Linked DNA regions of Homo sapiens. The protein of the gene in region 1 purifies or fractionates together with the protein of each later gene. This does not show direct contact. Each region holds a gene or a part of one and is shown in the gene's direction. Other genes may lie near its edges. The genes, in order: COLEC11, COLGALT2, NELL2 and TIMP3.

Evidence for each region.
Region 2: the proteins of COLEC11 (region 1) and COLGALT2 purify together in Homo sapiens (affinity purification with mass spectrometry; 3 studies listed by BioGRID and IntAct, with this or other methods). This does not show direct contact.
Region 3: the proteins of COLEC11 (region 1) and NELL2 purify together in Homo sapiens (affinity purification with mass spectrometry; 3 studies listed by BioGRID and IntAct, with this or other methods). This does not show direct contact.
Region 4: the proteins of COLEC11 (region 1) and TIMP3 purify together in Homo sapiens (affinity purification with mass spectrometry; 2 studies listed by BioGRID and IntAct, with this or other methods). This does not show direct contact.

What each region holds. Positions count from the first base shown.
Region 1 is NC_000002.12:3,591,132-3,598,114, forward strand, and holds the start of COLEC11 (collectin-11 isoform a precursor), read left to right. Parts: upstream 1-3,980; 5' UTR 3,981-4,037; intron 4,038-6,983.
Region 2 is NC_000001.11:184,034,708-184,041,915, reverse strand, and holds the start of COLGALT2 (procollagen galactosyltransferase 2), read left to right. Parts: upstream 1-4,187; 5' UTR 4,188-4,558; coding exon 4,559-4,821; intron 4,822-7,208. UniProt on the Homo sapiens protein: Beta-galactosyltransferase that transfers beta-galactose to hydroxylysine residues of collagen.
Region 3 is NC_000012.12:44,866,299-44,873,325, reverse strand, and holds part of NELL2 (protein kinase C-binding protein NELL2 isoform b precursor), read left to right. Parts: intron 1-7,027. UniProt on the Homo sapiens protein: Plays multiple roles in neural tissues, regulates neuronal proliferation, survival, differentiation, polarization, as well as axon guidance and synaptic functions.
Region 4 is NC_000022.11:32,853,678-32,860,704, forward strand, and holds part of TIMP3 (metalloproteinase inhibitor 3 precursor), read left to right. Parts: intron 1-3,571; coding exon 3,572-3,683; intron 3,684-4,339; coding exon 4,340-4,461; intron 4,462-5,502; coding exon 5,503-5,700; 3' UTR 5,701-7,027.

The sequences.
Region 1 (6,983 bases):
GACCCCCCCTCCCCCCTCCCGGACGGGGCGGCTGGCCGGGCAGAGGGGCTCCTCACTTCCCAGTAGGGGCGGCCGGGCAGAGGCGCCCCTCACCTCCCGGACTGGGCGGCTGGCCGGGCGGGGGGCTGACCCCCCCACCTCCCTCCTGGACGGGGCGACTGGCCAGGCAGAGGGGCTCCTCACTTCCCAGTAGGGGCGGCCGGGCAGAGGAGCCCCTCACCTCCCGGATGGGGCGGCTGGCCGGGCGGGGGGCTGACCCCCCCCACCTCCCTCCCGGACGGGGTGGCTGCCGGGCGGAGACGCTCCTCACTTCCCAGACGGGGTGGCTGCCGGACGGAGGGGCTCCTCACTTCTCAGACGGGGCGGTTGCCAGGCAGAGGGTTTCCTCACTTCTCAGACGGGGCGGCCGGGCAGAGACGCTCCTCACCTCCCAGATAGGGTTGCGGCCAGCAGAGGCGCTCCTCACATCCCAGACAGGGCGGCGGGGCAGAGGTGCTCCCCACATCTCAGACGATGGGCGGCCGGGCAGAGACGCTCCTCACTTCCTAGATGGGAAGGCGGCGGGGAAGAGGCGCTCCTCGCTTCCTAGATGGGATGGCGGCCGGGCAGAGACGCTCCTCACTTTCCAGACTGGGCAGCCAGGCAGAGAGGCTCCTCATATCCCAGACGATGGGTGGCCAAGCAGAGACGCTCCTCACTTCCCAGACGGGGTGGCGGCTGGGCAGAGGCTGCAATCTCGGCACTTTGGGGGGCCAAGGCAGGCGGCTGGGAGGTGGAGGCTGTAGCGAGCCGAGATCACGCCACTGCACTCCAGCCTGGGCACCACTGAGCACTGAGTGAACGAGACTCCGTCCGCAATCCCGGCACCCCGGGAGGCCGAGGCTGGCGGATCACTCGCGGCTAGGAGCTGGAGACCAGCCCGGCCAACACAGCAAAACCCCGTCTCCACCAAAAAAAAAAACGAAAACCAGTGAGGCGTGGCGGCGTGCGCCTGCAATCGCAGGCACTCAGCAGGCTGAGGCAGGAGAATCAGGCAGGGAGGCTGCAGTGAGCCGAGATGGCAGCAGCACCGTCCAGCCTTGGCTCGGCATCAGAGGGAGACCGTGGAAGGAGACCATGGAGGGAGACGGAGACGGGGACGGGGACGGGGACGGGGACGGGGACGGGGACGGGGACGGAGACGGAGACGGAGACGGAGACGGAGAGCTGATTCCTCCTATTTTATTCTTTTTCAAAATTGTTTTAGCTATTCTAGTTCCTTTCTCTTTTCATATACACTTTAGAATAGCCGTGTCTATATCTACAAAAATTATTGTTATGATTTTGATAGAAATTGTGTTAAGCTTGTACTGTATATTAACTTGGGGGAGAATCAACATTTTTACTCTGTTGAGTCTCCCAATCTATACTTTTTAATTTTCATTTTATTATTTTTGAAACAGGGTCCCACTCTGTCACCCAGGCTGGGGTGCAGTGGTGCGATCTCAGCTAACTGCAACATCCACCTCCCGGGCTCAAGTGATCCTTCCACCTCAGCCTCCTGAGTAGCTGGGACCATTCTACTATGCCCGGCTAATTTTTGTATTGTTTTTGTTAGAGACAGGGTTTCACCATGTTGCCCAAGCTGGTCTTGAACTCTTGGACTCAAGTGATCCTCCCACTTCAGCCCTGCAAAATGCTGGGATTACAGGCATGAGCCACTGTGCTTGGGGTGAGTCTCCTAATCTATGAAGACGACGTGTTTCTCTGTTTATTCAGATCTTTTTTGAGGTTTTCAGCAGCATTTTGTAGTTTTCAGCATGTAAGTTCTATATATGTTTTGTTAGATTTACACCTAAGTATTCCTTTTTTAAAGCAATTGTAAATGATATTATTTTGAATTTTGGTGTCTATGAGTTCATTGTTATTTTATAGAAATCTGCTTGGTTTTTCATTGTTTATTATTTTTTTGAGACAGAGTCTCGCTCTGTCACCCAGGCTGGAGTGCAATGGCACAACCTCAACTCACTGCACCCTCTGCCTCCCGGAGTCAAGTGATTCTCCTGCGTCAGCCTCCCGAGTAGCTGGGATTGCAGGCATGTACCACCATGCCTGGCTGATTTTTGTATTTTTAGTAGAGATGGGGTTTTGCCTTGTTGGCCAGGCTGGTCTCTAACTCCTGACCTCAGGTGATCCTCCCACCTTGGCCTCCCGAAGTGCTGGGATTACAGGTGTGAGCCACCACGCCTGGCCTACTTGGTTTTTTAAATGTTTGCCTTGTATCCTGTCACCTGTCACACTGATTTAATAGTTTCCAGGAGCTCTTTTGTAGACTCTGGGATTTTCTAAGTAGACAACCATGTCATCTGCAACAAGGGACAGAGTTATTTTATTTTTCGAATCTACATGCTGTTTATTTCCTTTTCGGGCCCTGCTGGTGTGCCTAGAACTTTAGCACTGCATTGAGTAAGAGGTAAGAGTGGACACCCTTGCCTTGTCTTGATCTCAGGAAGGAAACATTCCATTTTTGCCCATGAAGTATGATGTTAGCTGTGGCTTTGCCTTTGACAGATGCTCTTTATCAAGTTGAGGAAGGTCCCCTGCACCTATTTTTCTGAGAGTTTTTATCATGAAAGGTGTTGGTTTATGCCAAATGCTGTTTCTATATAAATTGAGATATTCATTTGATTTTCTTTGTTAGCTTGTTAATGGGTTTTTATCAAAGGAGCTTTGAATATTGACATAGCCTCACATTCCTGGATGAAACCCCATTTGGTCATAGTTGATAAATCTTTTTCTATATTGCTGAATTCTGTCTGTTAATATTTTATTAAGGATTTTCTCATCTATATTCATGAGGGTTATTGGTCTATAGTGTTTTTGTTCTGTCTTTGTCTGGTTTTGGTATCAGGGTAATAATCAACTTTATAAAATGAATTGGTAAATATTCCCTCCTCTTCTATTTTCTGGAAGAGGATGTGTAGAATTGGTGTTAATTTTTCTTTAAACGTTTTGTAGACCCTCCTGTGAAACCATCTGGCCCTGAAATGTCTTTCTGGGGAGCGTTTAAATTGCAAGTTCAATTCCCTTCCTTGGCATAGGGCTGTTGAATTATCTGTTTCATGCTGGGCATGTTGTAGTTCGTGTTTTCAAGAAGTGGTTCATTTTGTCTAAGTTGTCAAATTTATGTATAACTTCAATAATACGTTTTAAATAAAGAATCCATTATTTTTCCTTAATTTTATTATGTGTGTGGAATTTGTGTTTTTACAGTTTTATTTTATGATTTCTCAGTCTAAATAAATATTCACCTTTGAACCTAGCTTCTTATGATTGTAATTTTATATGTATCTTTTTCTTAAAGAAGGTTCCGCTATCCCCCAAAACATGCAAGATTCGGGCTGCATAGAAGCTGGATCTGTCCAGCCCCTGACTAACATTTGTTTCTGGCATTAAATGAAACTTGCCTTTAAATGAAACTTAAATGCGTAGAGTGAGTTTCCGGACTCACGTGTGGCCAGGTCTCCACAGGCCGTGGTCAAGCTCTTGCTGACTTTTGAAGCGAAATCCCATATGAACAAAGGAAAGGAGATCAGTCAGCTGCCCTCGTTTCTGTCTGATTGGTGCCAGGTGATGAGCGTCCCTCCTCTTTATGCTCTTTTGAATTTCCACAGTAGTCATGCTTATTTTTTCAAAAAACGAAAAGAAAGAAGAGAAAGCCAAAAAAGAAACAAAATTGGGATGTTCGGGTTGGAGAGTTAGCAGGGGCATCTCCAGGAGGGTCCTGCCCCCCACCCCAAAGCCGGCCTCAGGGAGTTCCAGGCGTTCCCACACTCCCCAGGCAGGACGGTGGACGCAGCGCAGACAGGAAGCTCCCCGAGATAACGCTGCGGCCGGGCGGCCTGATTTGCTGGGCTGTCTGATGGCCCGGGCCGAGGCTTCTCCCTGCGCCTGGGACTGCGGCCGCCTCTCTAAATAGCAGCCATGAGGCGCCTGGGGGCAGTGTCCTCGCGGGCCAGCGACGGGCAGGACGCCCCGTTCGCCTAGCGCGTGCTCAGGTAGGAGACTCTGCCCGGGGCTGCAGCTGAGGGTTTCACGGGGCTATGACAGTGCAGAGGGGAGGCAGGCAGGCTTCCAAACTGGGCGCGAGGTGGGCTCCTGCTGAGCGAGGAGGATGGGAATCTGTCCCTAGATCCAGGCAAAAGATTGAGTCTCAATAAATCTGGCACCAGAGTTCCAAAGTTTGATTAGTTCATGGCGGAAATTCGTGGAGCCTATTGATGAGATGGGATCCGACCCATGAGAGGTGCTGGATGATGGAGTCACCCTCTTGGGTGGCAGATTTCAAACAGCCCAAGGCCCAGGGGGCTAAACAGTCTTCGCTAATTCCAAACCGCAGTGCAGTACCTGGTCTCACAACCTGACGATTGTTCCTGAGCCTGAGCAGCGTCTGACGGGCCAGGCGGACAGCAGCCACGACTGCCCCCAGGGACCAGTGGCTCTGTGTTGGGCTCAGGAACGGGGATCAGAGAGGTGGGGGAAAGGTGGGCCTTGCTTTGGCAACTTTCCAGGGAAAGACTTTGAGTTCAGATGGGGTCATCTAAAACCAAGTGGGGTCATCTTGTCTCCAAAATTGGAAAGGAGGAAAGTTTCCTAGGGCCGCTGCCTCCTACCTGGATGCCTTGCGCTAGGAACTGGCGGTCTTTTTAGAGCTGAGGTGATGTGGTCGTTCTCAATTTAAAGATGAACGTTTAAAGCCATCTCATGTGCATAGCTGGAATTTTGGTTTGATGGGAAGCACTTTGCCTGTGGTAGGCAGAGCACTGCCCCAATCTTTCACAGCTATTCGATTTTGTTTACAATTTTGAAAAATCCATGTACCGTAGAAGAGAGCACACCGGTAATGTGCTGACCGCTGGGGGAAGATAAGAGAGGATAGGTGCCTTCTTACTCTGTGCTCTTGGTAAGAAGCTAAGAGGAGCGTGTGCTGTTGTGGGTGGAATCCAGGCTGCCCCAGAAGGTGCTCTGTCACTGTAGGGAGGGAAACACCGCGGTGGGGCTGGGGCAGTCCCCAGTGAGAGGAACCTCCTCATGCTTCAGGGATGTGGTTCTTAGGAGGTATTTGTGGTGCCTGTAAGATGCTGGGCCTTGCTGTAGATACTTAATGAAAAAGTAGAATAGCATGTTTGGCAACTGAAGCCATGATTTTTTCTCATTGTCTATTTCATTTTTTTTTTTTTTTTTGAGATGGACTCTGGCTCTGTCACCCAGGCTGGAGTGCAATGGCACCGTCTTGGCTCACTGCAACCTCCGCCTCCCAGGTTCAAGCGATTATCCTGCCTCAGCTTCCTGAGTAGCTGGGATTACAGGTGTGCATCATGGCACCTGGCTAATTTTTGTACTTTTTAGTGGAGAGGGGGGTTTCACCATGTTGGCCAGGCTGCTCTCGAACTCCTAACCAGGTGATCTGCCCACCTTGGCCTCCCAAAATGCTAGGATTATAGGCATGAGCCACTGGGCCTGGCCCCATTGTTTATTTCATTCATAACATGTATTTCCTCTCAGGATTCCACGTTTAACCCCCTCTCCCCTGCTTGTCAAGTCTGCCCCTTCCATTGATGGGAGGGCCCTGAGCGTCTTGGGCCCTGGCTGGGAGATAAGGATGTTGTTCTTAAAGAGGTCCTGGGGGTAGCTGTGGCTTCTCCGTTTACAAAATGGAATTCCTCTTCTAAGAAGGCAGTCAGAGGGCGAGACCTCTGGGAAGCAGAGACTCCTTCGGGCGCCTGGGTGCCCTCACCCTGTGCCTACCTGCCCTGGTTCCTGCTGTGCGTCTGAGAGCGCCCCGCTGCAGGGCCTGTGCCTCCTTTGTGCCCATAGGCCTAGCTGGGGCCCCTCGCAGGAAAGTGGACAGAAACTCTGTGAATGGGCAGCGGGGTCAGTGAATGAGTGGAGCGAGTGAAGGCATGAGAAATCCCAGCCTGGGCTGTTCCGGGGATCAGTGGATGAGTGAAGTGAGGGAAGGCACAAGAAATCCCAGCCTGTGCTGCTCCGGGGTCAGTGAATGAATGGAGTGAAGGCACAAGAAATCCCGGCCTGGGCTGCTCCGGGGTCAGTGAATGAATGGAGTGAAGGCACGAGAAATCCCAGCCTGGGCTGCTCCGGGATCAGCAGATGAGTGTGAGTGAAGGCACGAGAAATCCCACCTGGGCTGCTCTGGTGTCAGTGAATGAATGGAGTGAAGGCATGAGAAATCCCACCTGGGCTGCTCCGGGGTCAGCGGATGAATGGAGTGAAGGCACGAGAAATCCCGCCTGGGCTGCTCTGGGATCAGCAGATGAGTGTGAGTGAAGGCACGAGAAATCCTGCCTGGGCTGCTCTGGGTTTCTCTGCTCACTACTCACCCCTTTTCTTGGGAGACGGAGCCTGATCTTTGTTGAAGCCACTCCTGGGACATCTGCGGAGTGAGGGCAGTAAAAGCCTTGCTGAACACCTGGTTATACCTGAACAGAATCACTTCTAGCTAGAGGGGAAATTCCCATGTCAGCCTTTGATTCCTGAGACATTAAAAAAAAAAAAAACTAAACCCAGTTTGCATCCAGCAAACACTGAGAAGTGAGGTTCGACTTGCGTACTGAGTGGGTGGGGAGGAAGAGTTTACTATTGCTTTCAGAAGCCACATACCACAAGGAGCCAAAATACTGCTGCTGAGGCAGGAGCCGGGGAGACTACGGTTATGAGCCCAGTGGACCAGCACGTCTGGCTACAAACCTTGTGGTGCCCCTTGTTTTGACATTATTTTTGTATTTTTTATTTTTATTTTATTTTATTTATTTCATTTTTTTGAGACTGAGTCTCACTCTTATCACTCAGGCTAGAGGGCAGTGGTGTGATCTCGACTCACTGCAACCTCCACCTCCCGGGTTCAAGCGATTCTCCTGCCTCAGCCTCCCGAGTCACTGGAATTCCAGGCACCCGCCACCATGCCCAGCTAATTTTTGTATTTT
Region 2 (7,208 bases), on another chromosome or scaffold:
TCTATTCTTAAATGAGACGTAGAAGTGTAGTTTACATTTGTATAAACTTGTTTTGAATTGGAAAACATTCCTCCGTAGTGACTATTCTATAGCTCTTGGATGCAGCCAGAGCATAGACAAAACTTTGACACTGACGTAGTTTAATTTTAGCCTTTCCCACCTCAGTCACTGCTCTTTTTCTCCCTTAATATTAATTCCCTTCCTAGGACCCAGAGTCCTCGGGCCTACGTATCAGAAATCCATAAAACTTGCTTTGTCACCAAAGAGACCCATGCTTCAAATTAGGATCCCATTCAGTTCCCTTTATCAAAACTTCTTATAGGCCATTTCAGTTTAGGTGATAAGATTTAAAAATCTGATTGAATTAAAAAGATATCATCTAATGCTCCTCTCTCAAGGATTTTCATGTTGAAATTGGCAGAATTGTCAATTCAAGTACATTTTACATTGTAGGATTTTAGGATGGATCAGAAAAGCGAGTAAAACAAACCAGGTAGTGAAAGAAAGATATTTCAGTACAGAAGAAAGAAGCCTGGATAATTCAGCCAAGAGACTCTTTCTGCCAACTATGGCCCAGCAGGACTTACGAGGGGCTGGCCACTTTCTCCCTGTTTTTCCAAGGGAGAAGCATTCAAATATTCAACACTCAAATGATTGGCATTTAGCAATTTCATAAATGTTTGTTGAATGAAAAAATGAGGCAAGCATTTAAAACTTTTTTACCTAGGAAGGAATTGATGTTCAAAGAGGTCAAGTTTCCAAGGTCACAAAGAGAATAAGTGACACCAGTGAAATGAAAATTCAGCTCCAAGTGTCAGTTGCTCTTTCAAGCCTATCACAGCTGCCCCAGAGGCATTTATTTCCTCCTCTTCTGGGCTGCTGGAGCCACAGACATCTTGAGAAGCTTTCCTGCAAGAAGTCCTCTGGCCACCTCATAGGCCCTGTCCCCACCACATTGCACTAAGGGTGACAGTCCAAGAGGTTTTGTTGTCCCAGATGGAAGTCCCCTGTGCTGGAACAGTATGGGGAGGGGATATGAGAGAAAGTGCTTACTTCTAACTTTATGTAGAATCAATTGGAACAGTCTACTGGCAGTGGAGACAAAGAGATATGTGTGTACAACCCTGACTTTCCATTCAGCCGATTTTCCATGGAAAGAGCATTATAAGCAATGAATATTTTAAAATATAATTGGCTTTTATTTTTAAATTAGTTTTTTTTTTCAAATTAACTGTCTTATAACATCAATCCTATGCGGGGGGGAAACATCCAAATTCACATTACTGATTTCTGAAGAACTTATGAAACAAATCTGTTAGTAAGATGGGGACTTAATTTTTCCCAGGCTTCCCCTCCACTGCCTCCCAACCATATTTACAATGATCTTCTACTGTTGCATACCCTGTTATTACCTTAATATTCTCAGTCACTAAATGAGCACTCAATTAAAAGTTTTAAATAGGTGTTTTGTAGGTTATGTGGCTGGGAAACCCTTGATTTCATCTACAGAGCAGAGCAGGTTGTAGTTATTTTAAGAGAACTCCATGGAGCCGATTTCATTATAATGTCATTAGAGACCATACAGGTTTAGATGCTTCACCTTTCTTTGAAAAAATAGACTCAGATAAGCTGTTGACTTTAGGTAACTGTATTAGTCTGTCCTCACGCTGTGAATAAAGACATAGCTGAGATTGGGTAATTTATAAAGAAAAAGAAGTTTAGTGGACTCACAGTTCCACATAGCTGGGGAGGCCTCACAATCATGGCAGAAGGCAAAGGAGGAGCAAAGACACACCTTACATGGCGGCAGGCAAGGGAGCATGTGCAGGGGAACTGCCCTTTATAAAACCATCAGATCTTGTGAGGCTTATTCACTATCACGAGACTAGCATGGGAAAAACCTGCCCCCATGATTCAATTACGTCCCACGACACGTGGGGATTATGGGAGCTATAATTCGATGTGAGATTTGGGTGAGGACATAGGCAGACCATATCAGTAACAGAAGGAAAATAAGACAGAAATGTGGTTGCCTAGCTTTAAACTCCCTCTGTTTGCAGTAAAGTGAACAAATGATAACTATCAAACCAAGTTTGGCTAAGGAGTGCGGATTTTAGTATTGAAAGATGAGTGGGACATAGTTCAAGAAAGGGAAACAAGAAAGACAGAACAACATGGAGATTGTCTGGACCTTTCTAACAGTCCCATCACTACCTCCCTTGTGGAAATGACCACATCTTCCTCTATCCCTTCACTGTAGCTGGTACATCTGTTACAGTACTTCTAACAGATGTTTAACTCTCAGTCTTCCCTACAAGACTGTGAGCCCCTTGAAAGTGGGAACAATTCCTGAAAATGGATGGAGGGGAAGGAAATGTCTGTAGGCCATTCGATAAAAAAATATGAAGATTAGAGAAGAGATTAGAGCAGAAGACATAGATTTTGAGGATATAACCACAGGAGACCATATGGAGTGGGAAGACTAGCACACTATAGGGAGGCACACAGTGAAGGGGCTTGGCTCAGAGACAAGTAGTATCAGAGGAGATCTAGGATGGGAGATTATGTAATCGAAGTCCAGGAAGGTGAGAACGGAAGAGTTTACTGAATCTGCCAATGCTGAGGCCATCTGTTGGTTTTGCAGAACAGTGGGGAGGGCTGACGCCTTACTGCACTGTGGTGGGAAAGATGGGAGATGAAGAAGTGGAGAATACAAGTATAGATCTCTCTTCCAAGGAGCTTGGTCAAGCAAAGGGATGACTAGAAGAAGACACAGGACTTTTTTTTAAAGCTTTTCTTTCTTTTTTTTTTAACGGATAAGAGAAGACTGACCAAGTATTTAGCTTGAGAGAAAGGAGTTGATAGAGATCAGTTGAAGATTCAGTAGAGAGTGGAATGATAGAGAAAAATCATGGGCTAGAAAGGGAGACCTCTCCCTTTCTAGTCTGTGATCAAAGACCCTGTCGTGAGGAGGCACCTGCAAGTAAGAAAGGTCTTGGTAGGGATGCTAGTTGGAGACAGTGGTGTTGGGGGAGCTGGATGAAGGAGGTGATATACTTCAAAAGACAGTAGGGAAGACTTCTAATAGTTGCTGAGAAGGATTGATAACAACTAATAAAAAGACTATGGGACAGACCTGAGGGTGAGTTGGGATTGGAGATCATGAATGTGCACTGGCACCAAAACACCCTCCATACTTATCTATCAAAGGCTACACAATATATCTTCAAAACTAAATATCCAGCCGAGCATGGTGGCTGATGCCTGTAATCGTAACACTTTGGGAGGCCGAGTTGGGCAGATCACTTGAGCCCAGGAGTTCCAGACCAGCCTGGGCAAAATGGTGAAAACCCGTCTCTACAAAAAAAAAAAAAAAAAAAAAAATTAGCTAGGCGTGGTGATGGACACCTGTGGTCCCAGCTACTCGGGAGGCTGAGGTGGGAGGATTGCTTGAGCCCAGGAGGTCGAGGCTGCAGTGAATTGTGATCGTGCCTCTGCACTCCAGCCCCGGCAACAGAGTGAGGCCCTGTCTCAAAAAAAAAAAAAAAAAAAAAGTAAATCTCCTTTAGCAGTGTATGCCAGCAGTTTCATTTTATGTGCTAATTGTGTTCTTCCTTCACCCCTTCTTTTCTTCCTTATCTCTTCTCTGCTCTCCAACATGCGCGAATTTTCCCTCTTTGTTACTCTATCATATTGGCTTATTACGGAAAAAGAAAACCAGCTAAGTGAATTTATTCTTTCACAGCCCTCCTGTGAGGAGGCTTACTGGGTTCACAGTAGAGTGAGGCTTCAGGACAGTGTCTCCCAAGGGCTTTCTTTTATTTTGCGGGGTCTGATCTGGCTCCAAAATTCTCCAAGTCTTCAAACTTTGTGTTATTAGGTGTCTACTCAGTCAAGAATGAATTTCAGAAGTTGAGTATATAAGAAAATGCGACATGCTGCCTTTGCGGTGGTTAAACAAGTGTTTGTCATAATCGTGAATAGTTGGGGAGACTTTTCATTTTAGAACTCTACTCAGTCAATAGGTGCATTATGAAAACTGGATACATTGCATCACTGTGAAGGGCTTCAGTCTGCGGTTTGCAAAAGCAGAATAAATTTTCTTGGGGTTGTACCGTTATGTACACACACACACACACACACACACACACACACACACACTCACAGGCTCATTGGCAGACAGGGCCACAACTCGCGGCTCTAGGGAAGGCCACAGACCTCAGCTGTACGAGCGGAACCTGGACTAGAGGAACTTTCCTCAGGACTCAGGGCACACAGCCCCTCGGCCACTACTGTCTGCGAGCCCGAGGCGCAGGGGAGCGCCAGCGGCTGCAGGTACGCTGCGCACCCGCACTGGGGCCTGGGCGGTGCAGCGGCGGCGGGAGGGTCCTGGGAACCGCAGCCGCCGAGGCCAGTGTGTGAGCCGGCCGGCCGCGGCAAGCCGCATCCCCCGGCCGCCCCTCGCAGCCCCTTGCTCCCCGGCAGCCGCCGCCGCCCTCAGGCAGCCCAGCCGGGCGCTCGCGCCAGGACTTCCCCGCCGCCCGCCTCGGCCCGGAACATGGCTGCGCGCCCTGCTGCCACCCTCGCCTGGTCGCTACTGCTCCTCTCCTCAGCCCTGCTCCGCGAAGGCTGCCGAGCGCGCTTCGTCGCCGAGCGGGACTCGGAGGACGACGGAGAGGAGCCGGTGGTTTTCCCGGAGTCGCCCCTGCAGAGCCCCACGGTGCTCGTGGCGGTCCTCGCCCGCAACGCGGCGCACACGCTGCCGCACTTCCTCGGCTGCCTGGAGCGGCTGGACTACCCCAAGAGCAGGATGGCCATCTGGTGAGCGCGCACGGGCCCCGGGCCGCCGCGGCGGGACGCGGGGGCGGCCTGCCCAGCGCGGACAGCGCCCGGAGCAGCAGCTGCAGGGCGAGGGAGCCGCTGGAGGGGCGGGGGGGCACGCGGAAAATCTGGCGCACACACCCCCTCGCTGCCCGCGCCGGTGGCTGGCGGATCGGGCGGTCAGGCTGCGGAGGGACGCGCGGGTCAGTGTGCGCAGAGGGTGCTGATGGGGAGAACCGGACCGCTGGAGCTCTGGAGGGTAGCCTGCGAATTGGGGCTTTGTCCCACAAGGGGCATGGGGGACACCCCTCAAGGGGACTTTCAGTTCCCTCGCTTTTAACTCTCGAGGTTTCCTCTTTCCCCACCTCATACTGCTAGCCCTGACGTGAGGGGATAGGGTGCCTGTCGCCGTATTCCCATGTAGATACGACAGATGGAACGTAACTGCGGTTGGCCAGGGGCTCCGCAGTGGCTGGGGCGCCGCAGTGCGCTGCTCTGACTTTCCGGTGCCGGGCTCCTGCTCCAGGCTGGAAATGTGCTCCTAGCTCTCCTAGGGGGACCTGGACCTAGGGGTGGAGATTGGGCGGAGCCCGCGGAGTGTGCCCAACCATGGCACCACCGTGGGCCTGGTCTCCTGCGAGCGCTCCGGGCTGTCCCTGCCGGTGCATCGGGGTTCCACGTCCCGGGGAGAGACGAAGATGCCCTGGGAAAGATAAACAGCCAAGTTTTGTCCCCGGAGGAAAGAAGCTTGGACCTGGTCCCTGTGTCTGCTGCGGGGAGGGCCAGGGGATAAGTGCGGGTGCCTGCCCGCCCCACCTTGTAGAACTTGGTCGTCTCGCACCTTTTATAAACGCGAGGATCCGAGGGCGAGAAGTTAGTTGGTGGCCAGGTTAGCCGCTGAGTGGGTTGTGGAGGACAAGGAGGTGGATGCTGGCCAGGGGAGATGTGCTGTCAGGTAGGTACTCGGACAAGAAGACTCTGGCCCCCTGAGGAAGACAGAGCCCAGGTCACTCTGGAGCAATTTCTGTCTTGTGTTGATAAAGGGAGCTGTTCTCAGGCGAGACACATCCTTAAAGCAGCGGTTGGGCAAAGAGAGGAAGAGGAGTAAAAGCAGCAGCTAGAATTGGCAGCCTCAGAGTACCTGGTGGGAGAGGTGCAAAGGTGCGAAAGCAAACATGTGATATAGTACAGCTCTGTGCTGTACACTGCTTTACTATATACCCTGCCATACGTGACCGCCTGGCGGAGAAGGGCATATTATGTGGAAAGAGAGCACTGGGACAGCCAGGCTTTAAACCAGAAGGAAGGATTTTTTTTTAACCACTTCGGTACCAAAAGAAATTCACACATATCAGTTACCTTAGTTGTTGTGTTTTTTTTAAGAGATATTTTAAAATATGGTTTTGATCTTTATGCATGATTTAGTTTTTTAAAACGTTACAGTATTTACCATAAGAAGTTGGTGAGTGGTGAAGCAGGTGTCAGGCACATGCTTTGCTACCTGATTTAGAGACATTACCTCTTTTTATCATACAGTAAACTTTTAAGAGGATGCTATGATGTTTATTTTGCAAAGAAAGAGACAGACTTGCATCAGTTCAGTAAGTCACTTAAAGTGACAGAATTAATAAATGGTGAAACTGGAATTTGAACCCAAGGCCACCCTAAAAAGGCAGGAAACATGATATAAACAAAATTTACATAAGCCTATAATCTACAAATTAGGAGACTTGAGTTGTTTATTACTAGTTTGATATGTGATTTGGGGCTGGTTGCTTGGGATCCATAGGCATCAGTTGCCTCATCAATAAAACGAGGGAGTTGGAATAAATGATTTCAAAAATTCTTTATGGCTCTTGAATTCCATAGATTTTGCAATATAATTAGGATCAACCAGCATCAATGTACATCCTAAGTTCCCTGTAAGTTCCAGATGGTATGGACACTGGTGTCTTACTTAGATGAGAGAATTCCAGTTCTGCATAGACCTTTGAAATCTGTTGTCTTTTATGTCCAGCATTGGCAGGTTAAGCAAGAAGTGCAAGGCCATGCTTGCGTCAGTCATTGAAGACTCTTCTTTGAAAAATTTTGGTTCTGTCTTTAAAACATTGTGTAATTCTTTAGGTAACAATAATACAAATCCCAGTTTCTAAATAGTTCTTTTCAGCTCACAAAGGAGCTGTAAAGAACCTTTGGAAATAACTTCCATGCACTGTTAACTCATTTGATTCTTACTGCCATTCTGTGAAGAAATAAAATTATCTCTATTTCCCAGAAGAAGAAATGTGTTTAAAGTGATTGACTTACTCAAAATTACATTTATTTATAAATTCCACACATAATAATAAGAGCTCGTGGTTCTTCTAAGAACTTCACATTCATTTTCT
Region 3 (7,027 bases), on another chromosome or scaffold:
ATTGTCCATAGTAACTAGATATCCATGTACATTGATGAATTGGTTGTTTTTCCTTCCTTGTTGATGCCGAGCTCAATATTTAGACAGAGTAAATGCCTAACAAATATGGTTTATGAGATTTGAAGGTGTAAAATTTCATTTTCTGCCAAATTATGGACTTTATTTAATATAACCAATCAATCAGCAAGTATTTCCTGCATGCCATGTTCTCAGTAGGCATATATTACTGATGTATTGATTATGCTCTTGTGATTTCTTTTATTCTAAGATTCGGATTATGAAATTGACAAAAGGTGGCCCTTTGGCCATGCATGGAATTTCGCATTACCTTGGCAAGGTCTTTGCTAATAGCATTTGGAAACTTGTTAAGAAGTCAGTTCCGAGTCTTGCTGCTTCATTGAGATTTCCTTTGGCTTTAGAGAGAAAAAAATATACAGACTGAAGATTTTATAGATTCTATTTACAGTGAGTTGAGGGTGCTGCAGATATTTTGTACGGTATATACATATACACTATACATAGTCATAGCAGGAATAGTAACAAATTACAAAATCCGTGAGATGCTCTCAGGTTTCATATGAACCTATCATATAAGTTTCTTTGTGCTATCAGATATGTTCTAAATAGATGGAAGAGATTTTTGGACCATCAAATTTTTCCTGCAGTAATGTAACCATCTTCTTCTGTCTTTTAGCTTTAAAATAAAGAAATCTCAACATATACTTTCCCAGTGATTTTTGCTCATTTAATATTGCTTTTCCTTGTGCCAGTTTTTCTCCTTAGTGGATTTTGAGATGCATGCAATTCAATACCTTTTGAAACTCGTAAATTTATTATTATCTATACCTAATAAAAACAAATGGAAATATATTTTAAAGTCATATGTTTTAAAAATAATAATAGCAACTATAGTATCACTAAAATGGTTTTGTTGTTGTTGAAATTTGATTTATAGTTGTTTTGGAAATTCAAGTAATAAGATGCTAAATTAGATTACACCTTAATAAATATGGCTTTTGATCTTTGCCAATTACCATAATTTTCAAAAAAGGAATCCAGGCAATTTTCTAGTCATTTCTAGCTATAATCTGACTTGCAGCCACAAAAATACACTTATTATGCTTTTAAAAATTAGAGGAGTGAATGTAGACAATAAAAAGACCTATGAAAGGTTATAAAGGGTTCTACTTTCTAAAATCTAGGAAGTATTCCCCAAGATAATGATCATAATAATGTTTTTTTCCTCTCTGTACATGAGGGATCAGGAATGAGAGTATACAGAAGCACCATTCTAGGACTTTCTAGCAATGTTAGCATGATTTTTAGATCTTTGATTTTAACAATTAATCTGGCCAGGTTCCCAAAGTAGATAATTTCCTCTGTTGGTTTAATACAATTTCTTCTGAAGTGTTAACAGATTTTATAATCTCATTAATCCATAGAAGAGAAGTGGATAAAATCAAAGCATGTTTTTTTTACAAGTTGTTAAGTTGAAAATAAGCTTAGTAGTTATTTGTAAAAAACTTTAAGGTTTTAAAGGGAAAAAAAGGTCGTACGTCTCCTCTTATGCCAGTGTTACGCAGAGTGAAATAGGCATTTGGTAATAGACCATGGACTTTAGTAGGCAAAGGTAACTGCATTGAGGAAATCGAGGTGGCACTAATTTGTCTTCAGTATGATGGTTGGTGAGCATCTGTGGACTTTGAAGTGATGGCTGTTGGTGCCCAAATAGTGTGGAATAACACAGTGTTTAAGAGATGCACTTAGAAACAAGATAGACTGAGGTGGAATTTCATTAGTTGTTTTACTGTGGTGAAGTTACTTAATTTCTCTAAGCTCCAGTACCCTCAATTATAAAATGATCATTGTTATGACAATTAAGCGAGTTACTTTCATTCTTTCAAATAAGTTATTTTTGGGAAACTAGCATACTGCTAGGTGTTAGGCACATAACAAATGAAGACGTTAGAACTTAACTTTGATTTCATAGTGTCTTAAAAATAGCCGTTGAACAATTACATAGTTACAGACCTAATCACCATTAAGATAAATTATATGAAGAAAAACTGAAGATATAATGGGAATCTATATTTTAGTTAGGGGAGTCTCAGGCTCAGGGAAACCATCTTTGAAGAATAGTCATTTAAGCTGATAGTTGAAGGATATGTAAGAGTAGTCCAAAGAAGAGAAGCTATGGGGATAGGCAAAGGGACTAGTGTGTGAGCAAGGTTCTGAGCATGGGATGAATGTGCATTTGAGAACGTGGAGGAAGTCTAGAGAAGTAGAAACATAGGGCATGTGATATGAAATAAAGTATATGAGGAAAGCAGGAACCAGGTTACATGGTAGGCTATACTAATAGAGCAGAATTGAAAATTTATCATTATGGAAATATATATTATGGTGGGCAGAATAATGGTCCTGCATAGATGTTCATGTCTTAATTCTTGGAACCAAACAATAGGTTACGTTATACAGCAAGGGGAAGTTAAGTTTGCTCATCAGCTGACTTTAAGATTAGGAGGCTATCATAGGTTATCTGGGTGAGCCCTGTGTAATCAGAAGAATCTTTTGAAATGGGGAGAAGGAAGCAGAATAGTCAGTGTAGAGTGATGTGATATGAGAAAAACTAGTCTGGCCACTGGTGGCTTTAAAGGTGATAGTGGGCCACAAGCCAAGGACTGCAGGCAGTTTTTAGATGCTGAAAAAGGCAAGAAAATGAGTTTTCTCTTACAGCCTCCAGAAGGAATGTAGTGCTACTGATACCTTGATTTTAGACCAATGAGACTCATTTTGGACTTCTGATCTCCAGAACTGTGAGATAATAGATTTGTGTTGATTTAAGTCACTAAGTTTGTGGTGATTTGTTTGAGCAGCAATAGGAAACGAATACAAATTTTCCTGCATGGAAGTGTGGTGCTGGTGTAAGAAATACCTAAAAAATATGGAAGTGGCTTTGGAACTGGGCAATGGGCAGATGCTGGATGAATTTTTAGGAGCATGATAGAAAAAGCCTAGATTGCCTTAAATAGACTTTCAGTAGAAATATGGTTATTGGTGACTCTATTATTGAGGACTTAGAAGAAAGTGAAGAGCATGGTAGAGAGAAAATCTAAATCACCTCTGAATATTCCTAAATTATCATAAGCGAGCATTGGTTAGGTATAGACATTGAAGGAACTGCCATTGAGGGCTCAGATGGATATAAAGAATTTTTATTATAAACTGAAGGAAAGGGGACCCTTCTTACACAGTGGCAGAAAACTTAGCTGAATTGTACCCTGTGGTTATGTGGAAAGCAAAACTTGTAAACAATGAACTTAGATTTTAGCTAAGGTGATTTGTAAGCAACAAAAGTGTTGAAGGTGCACTCTGGCTTTTTCTTGCTGTTTGTAGTAACGTGAGAGGAGAGAGAGAGATTTAGGGAATAATTGTTGAGCAAAACATATTCATAACTTGATATTTGAGAAATTATCAACCTATTCAGATTCCAAAACATGTTAAAATAGGATATTCACTGTTAGGAATACCTAGTCTGAAAAGAAAGCCAAGGATGTGACTAGAAAATATTTTGCTAGTGCCTCAGAAATATCAAAAGGTCAGAGTATTCAGTTACATTGAGGGCTCTTTGAAGAACATATGACTCATAGATCCCCTCAACCATTTCAGCAGAGGTCACAAATAGAGATGGAATTATCCAAGAAATATCTATGGAGGAGCCTTTTTTGTTTAATGGAGTGAATCCCCATGACATACATGGGAGATCTACAAGGTTCTTAAGAATATTATGGCAGTAAAATTGCTGCTGGTGTGGCCTGAAAGAATCAGTGAGAGAATAAAATGAAAGAAGGTGTTGGATCCCCAAAATTCTACAAGCAAAAAACAGGCTGACTTGGCTGTCAACATCTTTCTATGAAGCTACCTTTCATGAAAAAAGAAGGTTAATTCAAAGGGCAGAACTCAGAGCCCAGAGCATGGAGCTGACTCCAGAGGGTGGAACCAATAATTACAGAAGCTTATTTCTAGACCTTGAAACCAAGTGGTGTTTGCCTGGCTGGATTTTAAAGTTGCTTGGATATGGCAATTGTTTTTTTTTCTTTCTTCCATTTTCTCCCTTTTTGAATGAGAATATTTAGAACTATCATCTTTATCTGCCTTACCATTGTGTTTTTGAGAGCAGATACTATGTTTCAAGGTGTGCCTCAGAATGGATTATATGCAGCGCCTTTCTCATACCTGTTTTAGATGATTTGGATGATGAGATTTGAGACTTTTGTTTTTGTTTTATGTTTTGTTACTTAAAATTTAATTATTTTTAAATTGACAAAATTGTATACATTTATTGTGTACAACACAATATTTTGAAATATACATTGTGGAATGGCTAAATTGAGCTAATTAACATATTCATTACCTCATGTACTTATAATTTTTTTTGGTGAGAACACTTAAAATCTATTTGAAATTTTGAAGAGTACAATGTATTATTACTATAGTCATTATGTTGTACCATAGATCTCTTGAACATATTGTGCCATCTAATTGAATTTTGGTCCTTTGACCAACATCTCCCCAACAACTATCCCCCATCCCCAGGCCCTAGTAACCAGCATTCTACTTTCTGCTCCTATAAGTTCAACTTTTTAAGGTCCCACATATAAGTGAGATCATGTGGTATTTGTCTTTCTGTGAAGGGCTTATTTCACTTTACATAATGTCTTCCAGGTTGATCCACGTTGTCTCAAATAACAGGATTTTCTTCTTTGAGGTGGAATAGTATTCCATTGTGTACATATACCACATTTTCTTTATGTGTTCATTTGCATTCGTATGTTCTTTGCAGCATTATTCATAATTGTCAAGATGTGAGATCAACCTAATTAATGGTCACCAATGGATGAATGAATACAGAAAAATGTCATTGGAATTTTAATAAGGGTCGCAGTAAATCTGTAGATCATTTTGGATAGTGTGGAAATTTTAACAATATTAATTCTTTGAATCCATGACCAAAGCATATCTTTTCATTTATTTGTGTCTTCTTCATTTCTTTCATCAGTGTTTTATAGTTTCAGTATACAGCTCTTTCACCTTCTTGATTAAATTTATATGTAAGTATTTTATCTTTTTCATAGCCATTGTAAATGAGATTGTTTTCATGATTTCTTTTTCAGGTAGTTCATTTTTTTTTTTTTTTTTTTTTTTTGAGATGGAGCCTCACTGTTTCACCTAGGCTGGAGAGCAGTGGTGAGATCTAGGCTCACTGCAACCTCTGCCTCCTAGGTTCAAATTATTCTCCTGCATCAGCCTCCCAAGTAGCTGAGATTACAGGCACCCGTCACTACACCCGGCTAATTTTTGTATTTTTAGTAGAGACAGGGTTTCACCATGTTGGCCAGGCCAGTCTTGAACTCCTCACCTCAAGTGATTGGACCGCCTCGGGCTCACAAAGTGCTGGGATTACAGGTGTGAGCCACTGCACCTCACCAGTTTATTGTTAACATAGAGACACTACTTTTTGTTTGTATATTGATTTGATATCCTGAAACTCTACTGAAATCATTTATTAGTTCTGACAATTTTTTGGTGGCATCTTCAGGATTTTCTAGATATAAGATGATGTCAAATGCAAGCAGGGATAAGTTAACCTCTTCCTTCCCAATTTTGATGCCTTTTATTTCTTTCTCTTGCCTAATTGCAAGTCTAGGACTTACAGTACTATGTTGAATAGAAGTGGCAAGATTGGGCATCCTTGTCTTTTTCCTTATTTTAGAGGAAAAACTTTCAACTTTTTACTGTTGAGTATAATGTTAGCTGTAGATTTGTTATATCTGAACTTTATTGTGTTGAGATACATTTCTTCTATACATTTATTGAGAGTTTTTATCATGAAATGATGTTGAATTTTGTCAAATGTTTTCCTGCATATGTTGAAATGATCATGTGGATTTTGTCCTTTATTCTGTTAATTTGATGTATCACATTTATAGATTTGTGTATGTTGAGCCATTCTTGCCTCCTTGGGATAAATCCTACTTGATCATGGTGAATGATACTTTTAATGTGCTGTTGAGTTTGGTTTGCTAGTATTTCGTTGAGGATTATTTCATCTCTGTTCGTCAGCAATATTGGCCTGTAATTTTCTTGTAGTATCCTTATTTGGCTTTGGTGTCATAGTAATGCTGGCCTTATAAGATAAATTTGGAATTTATTCCCTCTTCTTCATTTTTTTGGAAGAGTTTGAGAAGGATTGGTATTGGTTATTTAAATAGAGTTTAGCAGTGAAGCCATCAGGCCTTGGACTTTTCTTTGATGAAGGACTTTTTATTATTGATTCAATTTGCTTACAAGTTATTTGTCTGTTCAGATTTTTCATTTTTTCATGATTTTGTCTTGGTAAGTTGTATGTGTCTAGGAATGAATACATTCCTAGACATATACACTTAAACTTCTAAGTTTATCTAATTTGTTGGCATATAATTGTTTATAGTAGTCTCATGATGTTTTGTATTTCTGTGGTATCAGTAATAATGTCTCTTCTTTCATTTCTGATTTTATTTATTTGAGTCTTCTCTCTTTTTTCTTAAATTTCTTAGCTAAAGGCATGTCAATTTTGTTTATCTTCATTAGAAAACAACTCTCTGTTTCATTTATTTTTTCTATTAATTTTAGTCTCTCTCATTTATTTCTGCTCTGATCTTTATTATTTCATTCCTTTGGTCTTACTTTGGTCTTATTTTGTTTTTCTTTTTGTAGTTCATTTATTTGTAACTTTAGGTTATTTGTTTGAGATTTTCTTCTTTTTAAATGTAGGCATTTGTTGCTATAAACTTACCTCTGAAAACTGCTTTTGCTGCATCCTTTATGTTTTGGTATGTTGTGTCCATTCTCATGTGTTTCAAGATGTCTTCTAATTTCCCTAATTTCCCCTTTCCTTCTAATTTCCCTTTTAATTTCTTTTTTGACCAATTAGTTGTTCATGAGCATGTTAATTTTTATGTATTTGCAAATTTTGTGGAATTCTCCT
Region 4 (7,027 bases), on another chromosome or scaffold:
GCTGAGGAAGGGACTTAGGAGAAAGGGGACCAAACTCATTCCTCCTCTCCTTACGAATTTCAGTATAACTTGTTCTAAGCTAACTTTTATTGAATGTTGTGGGCTGACTGCTATTCTAAGTCATTTGCTTCTCTCAAACACCCTAAGAAGTGCTTTGACCCATTTTACAGATGAAGAAACTGAGACCCAAAGAGGTTAAGTAACTTTCCAAGTGGCGAACACAGGTGGCAGAGAAGATTGAAGATTCAAACTCTGGCTGTCAGCCTCCAAAACCTGAATTTACCACTGATCTCCATGGCATTGGTTTGGATTAGATTACCTTTAACATCTTTTCCAACTCTGAGATTCTAGGATTCTCTGATGTCAGGACATTATAAACCTATTATAACTCTCCTAAATTTGTCAAACCAATTCTAGATCTCTATGATTACAGACATGATACTTTTAGAATCAATATTTAAATCAAGGTAGGATTATTACACAGAAAACACAACTGAGTAGAATCTACCTTTGCCATGTTGTTCTTTTCAGAATTGACCCTAAAACACAGCGCTATGTTTGTCAGAGCCAGTCATTTGTAATGTGTCAGAATTTCGACTCTAGGCAAGTGCTAGGAGCTAAAATGCAGGTTCCTTCAAACTTCCAAGTAGCTGCGGTGCCAAGCTGATTTCGATGAGTTGAGTTCTTACTGAGCAGTTCAAATGACCAGACTGTAACCAGGGGCTTCATTCTCTCACCCACGAAGCACTAGGGCAGTCAAGGGGAAAGACTGACGCAGAAGGAATGAGGTTCCCATGGGCTGGGTCCAAAAGACCTAGAGCGAGTGCTTAGTTGAAACATTTGCCAAAACCTCAAGGAACACCCACACAAAAATAAGAAGTTGCTCGGCACAGAAGTCAGGGTAGGGGATGTTCTTCGAAGGCCACACTCCATGGCAGGCATACAGCAGCACGCTTAAACATGGTTCCTGTTAAGGCTAGAGAGGCACCATTCACATAGAAGAAGTCATCATCGTGACTCTACCCACCCCGCGCCCCCACCGCGTAATTGAATGCTGAGTGTGGACGGCACTTCTTCCAGCACTTGGCTGCGTTACCGTGCTCAGTTGGCAAGCCTTGGGGGAGAAGAGAGGTTCAGAAGGAAGACCATCTGAGTCCATCAGAACAATGTGTGCTTTTAACAAGGCAGGGGCGCCCAAACTCAGTAGGTCCAACAGACCAAGTTATGCTATGAAGGTCTTGTGGACCACCTACCCCCGCCAACCAGTCACCACTTAAAAGATGAGAAAACGCCAGCTCACAGGCCAAATGGGAGGCATTTAGAAGAGACACCAATGAAGAGATGTCTGGCTTTGTATTAATTACTGTAGGTAAATTAATACCAAATGCCAGGAAGTAAAGTAGAGGCATTTTCCTATTATAAACCCTTGGGACAAGCCCAGAGACCACCAGCAGTCCAGGGCTTGTGTACGCTGAGAACTGAGGGGATAACAGAATTGTGCAACACCTTGGTGCCCCACCGCCCCCGTTACCAAATCTCACAGTTCACAGTATCGCCTTGGCACACTGGGCTTGTGTAATACTCATGGACTTGACCTGGAATCACAAAGCGGACTCAGCTTCTGTTACATTCATTCACCCCAGTGACTCTGGGCACACACTGTGCCTCTGAAGGAGGCACAGTGGCCATAAATGGAAATAGCATTTGCCTGCTTCTGGGGACCTTGGTCATAGACTTCTGAGGCTTTCCTGGGAGCCAGTCTAAGATAATGGGTAAGAGTATGGACTCTGAAGGCAGAGTCCTCTGCTTGGAATCCTAGCCCTGCCATTTCCCAACTGTGTGGCCTTAACAAGCTACTTAGCCTGCCTGTGACTCAGGCTCCTCATCTATAAAATGGGCATAATAGTTCCTACCTCATAGGGTTGTCATGGTGATTCGTGGGCTAATATTAAAGGAGATTTCTCAACCTCAGTACCATTGACATTTGGGGCCGGATAATTCTTTGTTCTGGGGGCTGTCCTGAGTATTATGGGATGTTTAGCAACCTCCCTACCCTCTACGAACTGTTGTGACAACCAAAATTGTCTCCAGACATTGCCACATGTCCCAAATATTTCCTAGGGGGGCAAAATTGCCTCCAGTTGAGAACCACTGTATTAGATTATGTCGTAGATACAAATAGCCAAATATCAGCAATTTCACGTGGTTCAATCTAACAATTATAAAGTATTTAACAGTTAAAACTCTTTGAACTTTGTAGATACATTTATGTGCTTCATCTGGGATAAACGAACCCAATGCTTTCACCAGACGCTCAGAAGAATAAAAAACATGGAGAATTTCTAGCTTGAATTCAACGTTCACCAGCCAAATAGAATTTCTATAAAGTGGGGTTTGTAATACATCCCTCCCAGGGCTCTTTTAAGGATACTGCAAGGAGAATGTGAGTGAGAATGTTTTTGTGGGCTGGAAAGTGTCACAGAGATATCATGAGAATGCTGGCTGAGTTCACGGGACTCAGGTCCTAAGGTTGACAAAGAAAAAGGACCTTTGTCACAGCTACTTCTCTGGATTTCTGAAAAGGTGCTGGGATGTCAGACATGTGTAGCCGAAGGAGTGTTGTGGGGCAGTTGGAATGGGGGGTATGGCTGGCTGCACAGGAAGGTTTCTCTGGGAAGGCACCAACCTGGCTAGTCAAGAGGATCGGTGGCTTCATCTGGGGTGAAGGGGGCCCTGGGGTGGGTAGATCAGTGACCGGCCACTGGACAGCTGAATAGGGGAGCGAGATTCCCTCAGATCCAATGTCAGCAAGCCTTCTGGGTACTGAGACTCCTCTCCTGTGTTCCTCTTATTTTATTGATACATAATAAATGGACATATTTTGAGAGTCCATGTGGTATTTTGATATATTCAAAAATGTATAGTAATCAAATCAGGGTAATTGGGATATTCATAACCTTAAACATTTATCGTTTCTTCATGCTGGGAACATCTGAATTATCCTCTACTAGCTACTTTGAGATATACAATAAGTTATTGTTTACTGTAGTCATTCTACTGATTCAATGAACACTGGGTCTTACTTGTTCTGCGTACTCGTATTTTTGTACCCATTAATTATATCTCTTTGCCCCAATCCTTATTACCTTTCTTGCCTCTGGTAACCACCAATCCACTGTCCATCTTTATGAGATTTACTTTCTTAGCTCCCACATGAGTGAGAACATGGTGTATTTGTCTTTCTGTGCCTGGCTTATTCCGCTTAGCAAAACGACCTCCAGTTCCAGCTGCATTGCCACAAATGACAAGATTTCATTCTTTTTTCTGGATGAATCATATTCCATTGGGTATAGATACCAGGTTTTGTCTATCCATTCATCTGTTGATGGGCACTTAGGTTGATTTCATATCTTGGCTATTGTGAATATTGCTGCAGTCAACATGAGAGTGCAGACCCCTCTTCCATATTCCGATTTCCTTTCCTTTGGATACATACCCAGCAGTGGGATTAGGGATCATACGGGTGTCCAAACTGGGAAAGAAGAAGTCATGATGTTCCTTTTGCCCACAGATGTACCGAGGCTTCACCAAGATGCCCCATGTGCAGTACATCCATACGGAAGCTTCCGAGAGTCTCTGTGGCCTTAAGCTGGAGGTCAACAAGTACCAGTACCTGCTGACAGGTAATGGCCAACTCTAGCTTCTAGGCCAGGGTTTGGCCAAGGTCCACTGTTTCTTGACTTCAGAAGAACACATACGGAGTAGTTGACTCACCAAATGTCCAGTAAATTGTAAGGAGTCTCTAATGTTGAATTCATCCCACTTACCCAGTGCTAGGAGCTTGAGGCTCCTACACTTAGGCTGGACTTTGGAATTAGCTCCACCACTCACCTGGGGGAGGAAATCTCCTAATTTGTAGCTTCTCAACTTTACTGTAAATAAAAAGGGAGTATCTGTTCCTCTCCACCTCACACTCGACCTGTTAGGCCCGTCTTTGAAAGTTATTCATCTTTAGGCAGTCAGTGTAGTAAAGGAGAAAACAAAAACAAAAATCATTATAAAGGGAGTGAAGAGTTGGCCTCTAGTCCTAGCTCCAGTATTTAATGGGCTTGGGACCTTTGGCAAATCACTTTACCTCTCCAAGCCTCATTATCCTCATCTGGAAAATGGGGCTACAGTCCATTTTAAAAGGTGTTGGGTAGGGTGAAATAAAATCATGGGTCTGAAAAGTACCCAGCCACAGTGCCTGGGCTAAGTGGGAACATAGTAGGTGTGAATTCTCTCTGGGCTAGGCTCTGGACAAAACAACCTCTCCTTGTTTTCTTCTTTCCTCCTGTAGGTCGCGTCTATGATGGCAAGATGTACACGGGGCTGTGCAACTTCGTGGAGAGGTGGGACCAGCTCACCCTCTCCCAGCGCAAGGGGCTGAACTATCGGTATCACCTGGGTTGTAACTGCAAGGTAAGCTCTGGGGTCACTGGGGGAAGGAGGGGAGGTGCTGACTTGCAGCCCTAGAAACATCAGCTCCCAATGCACTGGGTGCCAGGCCCTCGGCTGGGAAGGGTATGCATGTGTTAGGCCAGGGCAGAGGGGCAGGTCTGAGCAGATATAGTAAGGATTGTTGCCCCAGGTGGGGCAGTGAGGAAGGCAGGGAAGGAAGAATGCCTTTCTGCTGTAATCGGCTGCCTCCATGATGACCACTTGGAAGCTGCTGGGGCATGAGGGCTCTTGAGTCCCTGGCCCCACCTGGCAGTTCAAGGCTGGAGGTATAGGATCCTGACACTGGCAGGTTCTCCCAAGTGGTTTCAAGTGGGCTCACCCTGGTAGCTGACTCATCGCTAACCCCACCCCAGGTAGGCAAATGGGCCCAGGACTGCAGAGACCAGATGCTACAGAAGGTCTCTCTTTACCAGGCCCATCCCCCTGACCCAAGTATAGGGCCAAGGTGCAGCCTGCCTGCTGTGGGAGGAAGTTGGGCCATTCTCTCACTTCATCTTCAAAACAGTCCTGTGTGGTTTTAATTACTATGATCTCCATTCTGCAGATGAGAGCTCAGAGAACTTAAGTAACTAGCCCTAGGTCCCACAGTTCACTGAATCTGGTTTCCAACCTAGGGCAGCTAGACTCCAAAGTTTATGCTCTAACCTTTCTAATTCCTCGATTCCCTAAAACAACTGAGATCTCCCACCTGAGACGAAAAAGTCCTCTCAGTAGTCTAATTCTGCTACTTACTGGCTGTGTGACCTGCAGCAAGTTACTTAACCTCTCAGAGCCTCCTAAAACTGTGATAAGAATTAAAGAGAATAATATCAAAGCACTTATCAGAATGTCTGTTAGACAGCAGATGCTCAAGCTAGTGCTATTTATATTATGATCACTGAGGGACTGATGTGGCTAGGCTTCCCATGCAGTGGCCCCAGGGTCTGAATCCAGGCTCGGTAGCCTCAGGCCTGGGCATACCATGGCAGAGTCCATCAACTGCTGCCTGTTATCTAATTGCAGATCAAGTCCTGCTACTACCTGCCTTGCTTTGTGACTTCCAAGAACGAGTGTCTCTGGACCGACATGCTCTCCAATTTCGGTTACCCTGGCTACCAGTCCAAACACTACGCCTGCATCCGGCAGAAGGGCGGCTACTGCAGCTGGTACCGAGGATGGGCCCCCCCGGATAAAAGCATCATCAATGCCACAGACCCCTGAGCGCCAGACCCTGCCCCACCTCACTTCCCTCCCTTCCCGCTGAGCTTCCCTTGGACACTAACTCTTCCCAGATGATGACAATGAAATTAGTGCCTGTTTTCTTGCAAATTTAGCACTTGGAACATTTAAAGAAAGGTCTATGCTGTCATATGGGGTTTATTGGGAACTATCCTCCTGGCCCCACCCTGCCCCTTCTTTTTGGTTTTGACATCATTCATTTCCACCTGGGAATTTCTGGTGCCATGCCAGAAAGAATGAGGAACCTGTATTCCTCTTCTTCGTGATAATATAATCTCTATTTTTTTAGGAAAACAAAAATGAAAAACTACTCCATTTGAGGATTGTAATTCCCACCCCTCTTGCTTCTTCCCCACCTCACCATCTCCCAGACCCTCTTCCCTTTGCCCTTCTCCTCCAATACATAAAGGACACAGACAAGGAACTTGCTGAAAGGCCAACCATTTCAGGATCAGTCAAAGGCAGCAAGCAGATAGACTCAAGGTGTGTGAAAGATGTTATACACCAGGAGCTGCCACTGCATGTCCCAACCAGACTGTGTCTGTCTGTGTCTGCATGTAAGAGTGAGGGAGGGAAGGAAGGAACTACAAGAGAGTCGGAGATGATGCAGCACACACACAATTCCCCAGCCCAGTGATGCTTGTGTTGACCAGATGTTCCTGAGTCTGGAGCAAGCACCCAGGCCAGAATAACAGAGCTTTCTTAGTTGGTGAAGACTTAAACATCTGCCTGAGGTCAGGAGGCAATTTGCCTGCCTTGTACAAAAGCTCAGGTGAAAGACTGAGATGAATGTCTTTCCTCTCCCTGCCTCCCACCAGACTTCCTCCTGGAAAACGCTTTGGTAGATTTGGCCAGGAGCTTTCTTTTATGTAAATTGGATAAATACACACACCATACACTATCCACAGATATAGCCAAGTAGATTTGGGTAGAGGATACTATTTCCAGAATAGTGTTTAGCTCACCTAGGGGGATATGTTTGTATACACATTTGCATATACCCACATGGGGACATAAGCTAATTTTTTTACAGGACACAGAATTCTGTTCAATGCTGTTAAATATGCCAATAGTTTAATCTCTTCTATTTTGTTGTCGTTGCTTGTTTGAAGAAAATCATGACATTCCAAGTTGACATTTTTTTTTCATTTTAATTAAAATTTGAAATTCTGAACACCGTCAGCACCCTCTCTTCCCTATCATGGGTCATCTGACCCCTGTCCGTCTCCTTGTCCCTGCTTCATGTTTGGGGGCCTTTCTTTAACTGCCTTCCTGGCTTAGCTCAGATGGCAGATGAGAGTGTAGTCAA